4 separate regions of the Homo sapiens genome follow, and all the other regions are linked to region 4. Evidence: fine-mapped expression QTL. A gene starts in region 4. Each other region holds a variant in brackets. All regions are shown on one strand. Distances are from middle to middle.

Region 1 (2,683 bases), 110 kb before region 4:
GGTAGCCAGGAGATGGTGCAACGGCCCCAGCCTCACAGGAACCGAGCAGGCCTGGATCTGCCAACCATAGACACGGGATATGATTCCCAGCCCCAGGATGTCCTGGGCATCAGGCAGCTGGAAAGGCCCCTGCCCCTCACCTCCGTGTGTTACCCCCAGGACCTCCCCAGACCTCTCAGGTCCAGGGAGTTCCCTCAGTTTGAACCTCAGAGGTATCCAGCATGTGCACAGATGCTGCCTCCCAATCTTTCCCCACATGCTCCATGGAACTATCATTACCATTGTCCTGGAAGTCCCGATCACCAGGTGCCATGTAAGTGATCTTTACCTCCTCTGGGCATTCTGGGCTGGGTGACTGAAGAAACAAGGGCCTCACATCAATGCTTCGTGTCACTAGGCTGGCATGAACAGGTCAGAATGCAGGGAGGGCATTCTGCTTCTCTTAGGGGCTTTCCATGTGTGGCTGGATTTGCAAAGGGCCTGCAGAGAATGCTTTTTCTTAGCCTAAAGCCTGTCCCACTTGGAGTCTCCTTCTCTAGGGACCTTTAAGGACAAAATGGGTTCCTCTGTCTGGGTTAGTTTAACAAACCTGCCTAGAAGCAGAGAGATGACCAAAATGATTTCTAGAAAATGTATTTTTTGTTCTAATCTTTGGGCATATGGGTTCTTCCTTCTCGTCATCTTTCTTCCCCATCTTAGACTTGGCAGAGAAAGGGCTTTTAGTCAAAAACAAAGCAAAACAAAACAAAAAACCAGAAGGTGCCCAGAATGTCATTGAGACTCTGGGATTCGGGCCATTACATGAAAATGAAGTTGTTTCTGTGATTTTGCTGCTTAAATCCTTTTGGACACTTGAGCCATCCACAGCTACCCTACATTCCAGCCACTCTAAGACTGGCAGTCCCCCTACTTGTCGCGATGGTTCACATCTCCATGCGTTTGCCAGGCTCTTCTCTCTCTTGGGGATGTTCTTCCCCTTCTGGTGTGTTTGACCCAGTTTCAATACACCTTTTAAAAAAACTGCTTTATCGAGATCTAATATACATACTGCAAGGTTTACCCTTAACCCATTTTAAATAAAAAATTCAATAAGTTTTAGTATATTTACAGAGTTATGCAACCACCATCATACACATTTTTTGAGACTTAGCTCAAGTGTCCCTCTGGAAACCTCCCCAGATCACGTTCTCCTTCAGGGCCTCTGTCTCCCTCCTGCTCTGGCCCTGTTGGGACACCTAACACCAGCATGGCATCTAATTATGTACGTGTCTCCTCTCCTTCTAGACTGCAAGTTTTT[A/G]TGCATCTGCAAATGCAAACGTGTACTTTCAATTCATAATTCCCCAGGATTTAAGCACAGTGTCTGGCACATACTAGACTCTCAATAAACTACTTCCGAAATAATAATATGTATCAGTGCAGGAAGCATCTCTGAAAGTGATAAGTCTTAGGTTGAGATAAAAGGTTCTATCACCATTTTTTTTTTCCTACTACCATTCTTGATGTTAAATCTCCGCTGAGGCCACTGGAAAATAACAAAAGGGCTTTACAGATGAAACACAGGGCTGTGAGGCCTGATATTTTTCTTAGCAAATAAACACTGGACAGAAAGTAGTTCAGAGTGTAAGAAGTGCCTGACCAAAGGCCTGATGCGCAGCTTTAAAATAAATTATAGAAATAATTACAAATGCTGTAATCAACCATAATTTACATATTAGTACATGTATACTAAGTATAAAGCTTCCTAAAGTGAAGAGAGCAACACAGTAATTCATAACTCAAAAAAGAAAAAAACAAAGAGGAGATAGAGAAATGTAACTTAGAAGATGCTTGGAAGAAATAGGTAAGAATGAGTGTGAGATCAGGAATGAGGGCAGGGGCTGGGGAAGCAGGAGGGTGTAAGGAGAATGGGGCCTTGGGCTGGAGCGGGAGAAAGAGCCTCTGATGCCTAAAACTGGGACGTGGTGTATAAATGCTGGGAAGTCAACAGAGTGGGAGTGCATGGATGCCACCCCTGCTCTAAGCGCCCAGTCATAGGGTGGGTGTGGTGGTGGATTCCCTTAAGTATGAATCACTGAGAACTGAATGTTGGCAAGGTCAAGGCTGTATTTCTCAGTGATTGCCAGGTTTAAAAGGAGTAATTTGTGAGAATAATACCATAAACTACTTTTTAACATTCTGTTATCTGTATTTAAAGGTAAGTTTTCACCAGGCACGGTGGCTCACCCCACTTTGTAATCCCAGCACTTTGGGAGGCCAAGGTGGGTGGATCACTTGAGATCAGAAGTTTGAGACTAGCCTGGCCAACATGGTGAAACACTGTCTCTGCTAAAAATACAAAAAGAATTAGCCAGTTGTTGTGGCGGGCGCCTGTAATCCCAGCTACTCGGGAGACTGAGGCACAAGAATTGCCTGAACCTGGGAGGCAGAGGTTACAGTGAGCCGAGACTGCACCTGGGCGATGACACAGTGAGACTCCATCTCAAAAAAAAAAAAAAAAAAGATAATTTTTCTGATCATTATAATATTTGGTCACTCCCAAAATTAAAATATGCCCAGAAGTTCAAAAAAGAAAAGAAAAAGTTTTCATATTTCTGCCACCCAAATAGAATTCCTTATTAGGGTTTTGACATATCAATTTTCAGTGTTTTTTTCTTTGCATATATTTTTAATCTAAAATTAAAAT
Region 2 (2,683 bases), 110 kb before region 4:
ATGTTTGAAACACCAGGGTCCATTTTGTTTTTTAAAGATTATTAATTCCATAGTTTTATTAGAAGTTGTTTCTTGCCATGCCAGGTTTATTTACTAAATACTCAAAAGCCATGTGTTCCTTTTCAGACCAGTTTATTTTATTTTCTTTTGAGACAGAGTTTCGCTCCTGTTGCCCAGGCTGGGGTACAACAGTTGTGATCTCAGCTCACTGCAACCTCCGCCTCCCAGGCTTAATCGATTCTTCAGCCTCAGTCTCCCAAGTAGCCGGGGTTACAGGTGCCTGCCACCATACCCAGCTAATTTTTGTACTTTTAGTAGAGACAGGGTTTCACCATGTTGGCCAGGCTAGTCTTGAACTCCTGACCTCAGGTGATCCACCCACCTTGGCCTTCCAAAGTGTTGGGACTATAGGCATTAGCCACCGCGCCTGGCCAGACCAGTTTTTTAAAAAATTATTTTTATTTTTTGAGACAGGTTCTTGCTCTGTCACTCAGGCTGGAGTGCCATGGCACGATCTCGGCTCACTGCAGGCTGGACACCTCCAGGGCTCAAGTGACCTCTCACCTCAGCCTCCCAAGTAGCTGGGACTACAGGCTCACGCCACCGCACCTGGCTAATTTGTTTAATTTTTTGTAGAGACAGGGTCTCATTATATTGCCAAGGCTGGTCTTGAACTCTTGGGGTCAAGTAATCCTCCTGCCTCAGCCTGCAAAGTGCTGGGGTTACAGGTGTGAGCCACCACGCCCAGCCCCAGAGCAGTTTTAACTGAAGAATTCCCACCAGAGGATGACCTCAGATTTCCAGTTTATGTGAGATGACTGCCCTCATCACTTTTTTTAAAGCCTCCTCCAAGCCCCCAGATGGCTCCTCAGCTAGAAGAGTAGAATTTGCAACTTTTTTTTTCTTTAGGTAGAAAAGCGCTTCTAAGGTACTCACACTGGAAAACCCAGTGAGAATGGAAATAGTTGTACCTGAAGAGTGAGGATTGAAAGCAAATCCCATGGCAATAAAGAGAGGACAGGAATTAGTCCTCCTGCCACTCAGCTCACTTTTTGCATCTCTTTGCCTCCCATTCAGCTGTGTGCCCACAAGTGCATGTAGACGATGACACAACAGTCAGCCAGGCCTTGAAAAAATATTTTCGTTTTCTGACCGGCTGAAGAGCATGTTGTGTGGCACATCCAATTTCATAACTGTGGAAAAATTGCAAGAAAGAAAGGGAAAAAATGGTGAGCATTTTTTTTTTTTTTGGAGATGGAGTCTCGCTCTTGTCGCTGAGGCTGGAATGCAGTGGCGCAATCTCAGCTCACTGCAACCTCCACCTCCCAGGTTCAAGCGATTCTCCTGCCTCAGCCTCCTGAGTAGCTGGGATTACAGGCACATGCCACCACGCCCAGCTAATTTTTGTACTTCTAGTAGAAAGGGGGTTTTGCCATGTTAGCCAGGCTAGTCTCGAATACCTGACCTCAGGTGATCCACCCGCCTCAGCCTCCCAAAGTGCTGGGATTACAGGCCCGAGCCACTGCGCCCGGCCAAACATTTTTTAAATAATAAAAAGTTGC[G/A]ATATTTATTTACAGGTTTTTTGGGTAGGCTCTTGTTCATTTTTATAAGGTCTGATCACTTTAGCTGATGAGGTCTCCTTTTCTGCAGAGCCAATGAGCAGAGGACATACACAGCCTGAAAAGGACAAGGACAGGGAAAGGGAGAGACGGAGGGAGGAGGGAAGGCCAGCCGGAAGTTAGAAGTTGAGTTTTCTGTTGCGTCAGAAAACAGAGCAAGGGTCGTTGTGCAGCAGGTGGGTAAGTTTGATACCAAGTGGGAGAAGACTGTCAAAGAGCATTCATTTGGCAGGGAGTGGAGAGGTATCTTTCTGTAGGCTGTTAAGTATATTTGGTGGAAAACTGCTGGCCCCATCTGTGTGAAAGGGGAGCATTTCAAAATGCATGCTGTCCTGATCCCATTGGATTGGGTACAAGGTGCAAGAGAAAGTGAATTCATGCTCTCCGAAACTTGTTTTAGAACATAATTTATGTAAACTGACTTTAGGCACAGTGAGCCCTCAGTGAATGTGGTTGAAATGCGACATGGATCCAAAGTAGGAATTTTTAAATCCAGACATAATCCCTTTTCTCTCTCTGGTATTTGAAGTATGCTGTGTACTAGCCTTGCATAGAATAACCCTCTGGGATTTCTTCTTTTTCACTTGCTTGCTCTTTTACGACACCTGCTCTGCAGCCTCCTGCAAACCCCCAGTTGCTCCTGTGCAGTCCTCTGGACTGCGTTCTTCCTGCCCCTGCAGTCAAGGCATCATCTCAATCAGTTTAATGATGAGAGGAGACTGGTTTTCTTTCTCATTGTGTTAGGTGAATTAAGAGTTCTTCTTACAGCTAAAAGCAATATTGCCCGGCCCGTTGGATAAATGCTCTGCAGGCTAAGGTCTAGTTTAGCGAGCCTTGCTGGTTCAACTACATCACAAACCAGATGGTCATGGCTACCTTTGTTGCAGGCATAGTGCCCAGAGGGAATTAAGTCCTCCAAATGACCTAAAATTAGGTAGAAAATGTCACTCTGACCTTTTTTCAATGTGTTTTAAACTTGGGCTTGCTTTCTTTGCTTAAAAAAAAACACTTTTATTTTTTAAAATTAGGAAATAGTCAAATGGAACAAAATTATAAAAGTTTAA
Region 3 (2,683 bases), 100 kb before region 4:
TGTGCAGTTGGAAACCATGGCTACGTGGCTCTACTCAGCTTTAGAAGAGCATTACTTCCTTACCCATTAATGAATATATAAATAAATAATGATCACCATGCAAATGGCATATCTAAGCTTTTTGCAAGTTAAAGCAAAAATGGTTATTGGTCGCCCCTTTCATGTAAAAAAAAAAAGTTTTCAAAGTAGGTGGAAATAAGAAAGGGAATAAGTCTACGTTTTCTCCTCACCCCACCCCCTGGAGAAGTCGGCCTCCTGCTGCCTCCGAATCCTTCCACTGAAGGTCGCCAGCATGGAGTTCATGGCTGTGCAATCAAATGAAACTCATGATGCAAATATATTGGGAAAAGAGAGAGAATTAAGTCTAGAGAGCCCTCATTTTATTATAAAATTATTGCTTTCTCTACCAAGGAGACTGAATAGAATAAAATTACAGGTACATGTGTACAATTGTACCTGTGGACCAAAAAAAAAAAAGGGGAGGGATTATTTGTATGCTAGAATGCATGCACAAAAAATAAACCAGATGGAAGAAATGATAAAGAAGGAGTTGCCTTTCAGGAACGACAGCTGCTTACAGCTGTGGGAGTTCCTGCAACAGTTTATATTGGCCATTTTGTTTCCTGGCTAAACTGATTGCATTATATCACGATTTTTTTTGACAACTTGAAAATCAGATTTTATTTCTCTCTCATAAACTCTTTTAATTCTTAATAAGGAAGAAAAATGTTGCATGTTGTGACTGATAAATGGAAAACCTCATTTAGGATTTGGTTTACATATTCCAAATGGTAAAAGCTCAGTAACATGAAGATCGTGTGTACTCAGGCCAAGAAGATCACAGGATTGACAAATAACATACAGTCCTGGGCGCCCATTTGTGATTGTGCAAGATTTTCATTTTTGCTTTGTGATTAACACTGCCTCTGAACTGAGGAGTTACCATGCTAGCAAATCATTTGTCTATCACATCATCCACCTTCCCTCTCCTACAGAATTAACTCTCTTGATGGAACTGTAGGCATTGGGGACAAGTCCGCAGGGAAGCTATTTCTGAACAGGGATTCTCAAGTAGGTGGCTGTCGACTCATATGTCTCCCCTTCTCACACACTAACTAGTGTGGGTTTGTGTTTAAAAACAGACACCCACAGACACATAGATTTTCTCTTTCTCTCTCCATTTATTTTGAGCTAATCCCAAGGGAACTGTATCCTATTTATCTTTGTTCACCAAGTGCCTGGCCATCGAGGTTCAATAAATATTTGTTGAATGAATAAAAAGAAATCTGTTCTCTACTTCCTGGGGAAAGGAGTGAGCCTTAATCATGAGTAGAGTCTTTGTAATGTGAAGCCTTGGAAAAGCCATTTTTTTTTTTTT[G/TTG]GCCTGGGAGGGAAGCAAAGAAGGGAGTCAATGAAATTTGGAAACAGAACCTGTCCATCCACTTATCAATTTATTCAGCAAATAGTTATACACCGTCCTTGTTTTCATGGAATTCACAGTCTACTGGAGAGATGGATAAGAAGTAGAAGTCAGAAACAGAATGACAAATTATAAGTGCTATAAGGGAAGTAACTGGTTGTTGGAACAGACATTAATAGACAGGTTGACCAGAGAATCTCTTTAAGTAGACATCTGAGCTGAAACCTAAAGGATGAGAAGGTCAAGGAAGCAAGGAGCTAAGGAAGCAAGGAGCTTGATGTCATTAAGATACCAAAAGCAAGTCAGTGGGGCCTAGCAGAGTGAGCAAGGAGAGAATGGTGTGCTAGAAGATGAAGGCTGGATGGGCCATGGTGAGGAATCTGGATTTTTATTCTGAGTTAAACTTCTTTATGAAAATGGAAAATTGAACTCTATAATTCTCAATATGGAACTTAGAACAGTACTTGACATGTAGCAAGTGATCAATAAATGTTAGCCATTATTTTACATGTATAGTACCCAAGTAAATTGGCAAGCCTTCGTCATAGTAATTGGAAAAAAATGATTAAAACTTTAGCAGTGAAATGATGGTCATTTACTTGATAAACATAGTTTTTATTTAGCAACTTTTCTTGTTTCTTTTTTTTTTTTGGTATTTTTTTGTAGAGATGGGATTTCACCTTGTTGCTCAGGCTGGTCTTAAACTCCTGGGCTCAAGAGATCCACCCACCTAGGCCTCCCAAAGTGCTAGGATTACAGGCGTGTCCAGCCTATTTAGGAACCTTTTCCATACAACCAGTCAAATTCCAGACAAAGCTGGTCAGATTCCACTTACAAAAGGGAACACTCATTTCTTACTGATCCACTGATACTCAGTTTTCCTTTGTTTTCAACAATAAAAGGACAGCATGGAGGACTATATTGTCAGTACCCTAATTTTAAAAATTGATGAGGTGTATCATTTTCATCTGCTCACATAAACTGGCATAACTTTTTACCACAGGTGGCCGTTTCTGAAATGAAAGTTACAGCTAATCAAACACTTAGCCCACATGCCTTGGTGATTTTAATGATATGATTTGTTGCTGTGAGACAAAGACATGTTGTGAGGGAAATAATCTGTTAGAAATCATATGACCTTGATTCAAAGGCTTTTGATTAACAGCACCAACATCCGCTTTCTGGAAAAGAAATAAACCCTATGATTAGAGCTTGGTAGTCCTTTTAAAGCAAATAAAACAATATTAGCCATTCATTAATGGATAT
Region 4 (2,683 bases):
AGGAACCCCTTGTTTCCAATTTAATAGCCAAGCCAGCTGCATGTTACTACTCTTTAAAACAAAAATTCCCTAACTGCATCGCTTCACCCCCTCTCGATTTTTGAATAAAGTTGTTTATTCAAAACGGCCCTTCCCCACGGTGGTGCTTTTATGCCTTCGGGTAGTAAAACCTTCCATAACGTGTTAGTGAAAAACACGAGGAGGCCACGTCTAACGCGGTGACTTTCACAGGCCTTTTTCTTTGGCCAAAATTTTCTCGGAAAGACTGTTAATCCTACATTCCGCTGGGGGAGGAGCGACGAGGGAGGAGGGAGGTCACCGGCAGCTGACAAGTCCTTACATGTACTTGCGCGTGCCCGGGACGCAGCCTGCGGGGCCGAGGAAACCAACGAAGGATGTATTAGGACGAGAGGGAAGGAAGGGGGCGGGAGAAAAACACGGTAGTGGGAAATCCCTGTGCACTGGATCTGCCAACCCCTCGCAAAGCTGAGAAGAGCCGTGCGTGAATAAATCTCATTAAATGGCCCGGCGCAGACACTGCAGCAGCAAAGAGGAGGGGGCACCGCGGCTCGCGCGGCACGTTCGGGAAGGGGGAACGCCAGGGCGGCCCTTTTATAGGCCGAAGCCCGCGCCCGCGCGCCCCCACCCTTCGCACCGCCCCCGGGCCACGCGCGGAGCCGCGGCGTTACCTGAGAAGGGCCGGCTGCGTCCGCACCCGGCCCCGCCCGTTCCGCCGCCCGCCCGCCCTTCCCTCCCGCGAGGCCGCAGCGGCACGAGATCTGCGCCTCGCCTCCCTCCTCACGCGGGCGGATTTTCTTACCTTGTGAAAAACCGTCTCAGCGGCTGCCCCCGCCTCCTCTGCTGGATGTGAAATGGCGGTCGGCGAGGCAAGTGTGAGCATCGCAGCTCCTGCCAATCCTGCATAGCCGCCAAAACGGCCCCGAACACTGGCGCCCCCCTCCCGCAAGCCCCTCGGAGCCCATCCATGAGATCGGTGCTCCGCCGCCCCTTCCGCTGCCCCTCACCCAGGTGACCGTGCCCGCCAGCCGAGTCATCGATCCCGCGCGGGCGCTGCCGGCCGCCGGCCGCCTCCCTCGCCGCGTGCCCGGGGAGGGGGAGAAAGCCCCTTCTCGGCCCCCGCCCTCCGTGTCCCGCCCGGGCGCCCGCCCTCTCGCTCCTTTTCCCGCCGAGCCCCCTCCCCCGCACTACTCGCAGCCTCCCTTCGCCACACACACCCCCCTCTCCCCTCCCCCCAGTGGTTGCGTCCGTGACATCATCATCATGGCAACAAGAGCTGCAGCCTGGGACCGAGGAGCCCGTGTGATTCCCGGCGGTGGCGGCAGTGGCGGCAGCACCAGCACCGACGAAAGCTCGAGGGCTTCTCTCCTGCGGCCCCTTGCCGGGTGCTCCTGAGGAGGCGGCGGCAGCAGCGCCTACACCGCCCCGCCCGCCGCTCCTCGAGGTGCCTCTGTGTGAGGGGAGGGGGCCGTGCCGAGAAGGGGAGGGGGCGCCGCCGCCGCTGCGGAGGGAGCCGCCGCCGCTGCTGCTGCCGCTGCCGGGTCGCCAGTGAAGGGAGGCAGTGGCGGCGGCGGCGAACATGTTTTCAGTAAGGATAGTGACTGCAGACTACTACATGGCCAGCCCGCTGCAGGGGCTGGATACCTGCCAATCCCCCCTCACCCAGGCCCCTGTCAAGAAGGTGCCGGTGGTGCGAGTCTTCGGAGCGACCCCGGCAGGTAAGCGGGCGCCGGGCGCGGGGCGGGAGCGGGAGTCGGCGGGGCGCCGGGGCCGCCCTCCCCGCCGCGCACACGCGCACACGCCACCGGCGCCGGCCGTCTCCGTGGATCGCTGCCGCGTCTTCCCTCCCCTCCGCCCTCCTCGCCTTTTCTCTCGTGCGTGACAAGAGCCGCAAAAATGTGGGTCCGCGCGAGCGCTGCGCGGCGCCCCCACCCCCGGGCAGGGAGGTGGCGAGCGCCGCGTGTTTAGACTGCGTGTGGCGGCCGGGAGCGGGAGCCGCACTCCAGGGCGCGGGCCGGGAGAGCGAAAGCCGCGGGCGCCCCGGACGGCGGGCCAGGTGGCCGCGCCATGTCCATCGGTGGACGGGTTCGTAGGGCCTGCTCTGAGGTCGGTCGCTAGTGGGACATCCCTTGTGTCCCCCAAGTGCCGCTTTCTGGAAACGGGGAAGTGTCAGCCTTGTTGTCAGTCGCTCCCCATGGTCTCTTCTCACCCTCGCTCTCCTCTGCCAGTTCCGGAGATGCAGTGGGCCGGAGAGAGTGGCGCTTGGGGCCAGATAATCTTTCTCACTGGGGTGACCGTGTGGCTCTGCTGTGAGTGCAGGTCGTGACTCCTTAGAGTTTAGTGCCTGAGCGTCGGGGGACAGGGCAGCATCCTTAGGTGCAGTGCTTTCAGGAAATGTGCATCCATGGAAGTAGGAAATGCGTGTTTATGTTGCCCAACCTAAAACATCACACTTAATGGGGTGAATTTATTAGGAACCACAGCCAGACTCAGCAGCACAGACATTTTGAAATGCTCCTAGGCTGGGCTGTAGGATTGCGTTTTAAGTACAGGTATATATTTTTTAAACACAACTATGTTGAAGAAGGGATGGGAAGGGGAGACAGCCGTGACAGAAGGTACGTTCTCAAAAACTCCTGGGGCTTATGATAATATAAAAAAGATA

Direction of the effects. Positions count from the first base shown, and alleles are read on the strand shown. Sizes are in standard deviations (SD) of each study's normalised expression. Not every link is listed here.
In carriers of allele G in region 3, the expression in neutrophils of the gene that starts at base 1,268 in region 4 tends to be higher than with TTG alone (moderate effect, 0.58 SD a copy in BLUEPRINT).

What was found. PIP is the estimated chance that this variant, and not a neighbour inherited with it, causes the effect.
Region 1: its variant is the best candidate, but not a certain one, in a credible set for the expression of REV3L in whole blood (INTERVAL, PIP 0.60).
Region 2: its variant is the best candidate, but not a certain one, in a credible set for the expression of REV3L in subcutaneous fat (GTEx, PIP 0.54).
Region 3: its variant is the best candidate, but not a certain one, in a credible set for the expression of REV3L in neutrophils (BLUEPRINT, PIP 0.74).

What each region holds. Positions count from the first base shown.
Region 1 is chr6:111,588,888-111,591,570 of GRCh38, reverse strand. It overlaps TRAF3IP2 (TRAF3 interacting protein 2), which reads left to right. Exons shown (of 9, transcript NM_147686.4): 2 at 1-313. It also overlaps TRAF3IP2-AS1. Among named protein-coding and RNA genes, the nearest start is that of TRAF3IP2, 16 kb to the left of the region's middle. RefSeq lists an enhancer at 1-374. The variant A/G (reference allele first, on the strand shown) is at 1,298.
Region 2 is chr6:111,592,700-111,595,382 of GRCh38, reverse strand. All of the region lies in intron 1 of TRAF3IP2 (TRAF3 interacting protein 2), which reads left to right. It also overlaps TRAF3IP2-AS1. Among named protein-coding and RNA genes, the nearest start is that of TRAF3IP2, 12 kb to the left of the region's middle. The variant G/A (reference allele first, on the strand shown) is at 1,563.
Region 3 is chr6:111,584,030-111,586,712 of GRCh38, reverse strand. The region is part of intron 2 of TRAF3IP2 (TRAF3 interacting protein 2); the gene reads left to right. It also overlaps TRAF3IP2-AS1. Among named protein-coding and RNA genes, the nearest start is that of TRAF3IP2, 21 kb to the left of the region's middle. The variant G/TTG (reference allele first, on the strand shown) is at 1,379.
Region 4 is chr6:111,481,803-111,484,485 of GRCh38, reverse strand. It overlaps REV3L (REV3 like, DNA directed polymerase zeta catalytic subunit), which reads left to right and starts at 1,268. Exons shown (of 32, transcript NM_001372078.1): 1 at 1,268-1,736. The coding sequence starts at 1,598. It also overlaps TRAF3IP2-AS1. RefSeq lists enhancers at 122-481, 2,322-2,381 and silencers at 552-941, 982-1,211, 1,382-1,681, 1,742-1,811, 1,872-1,951.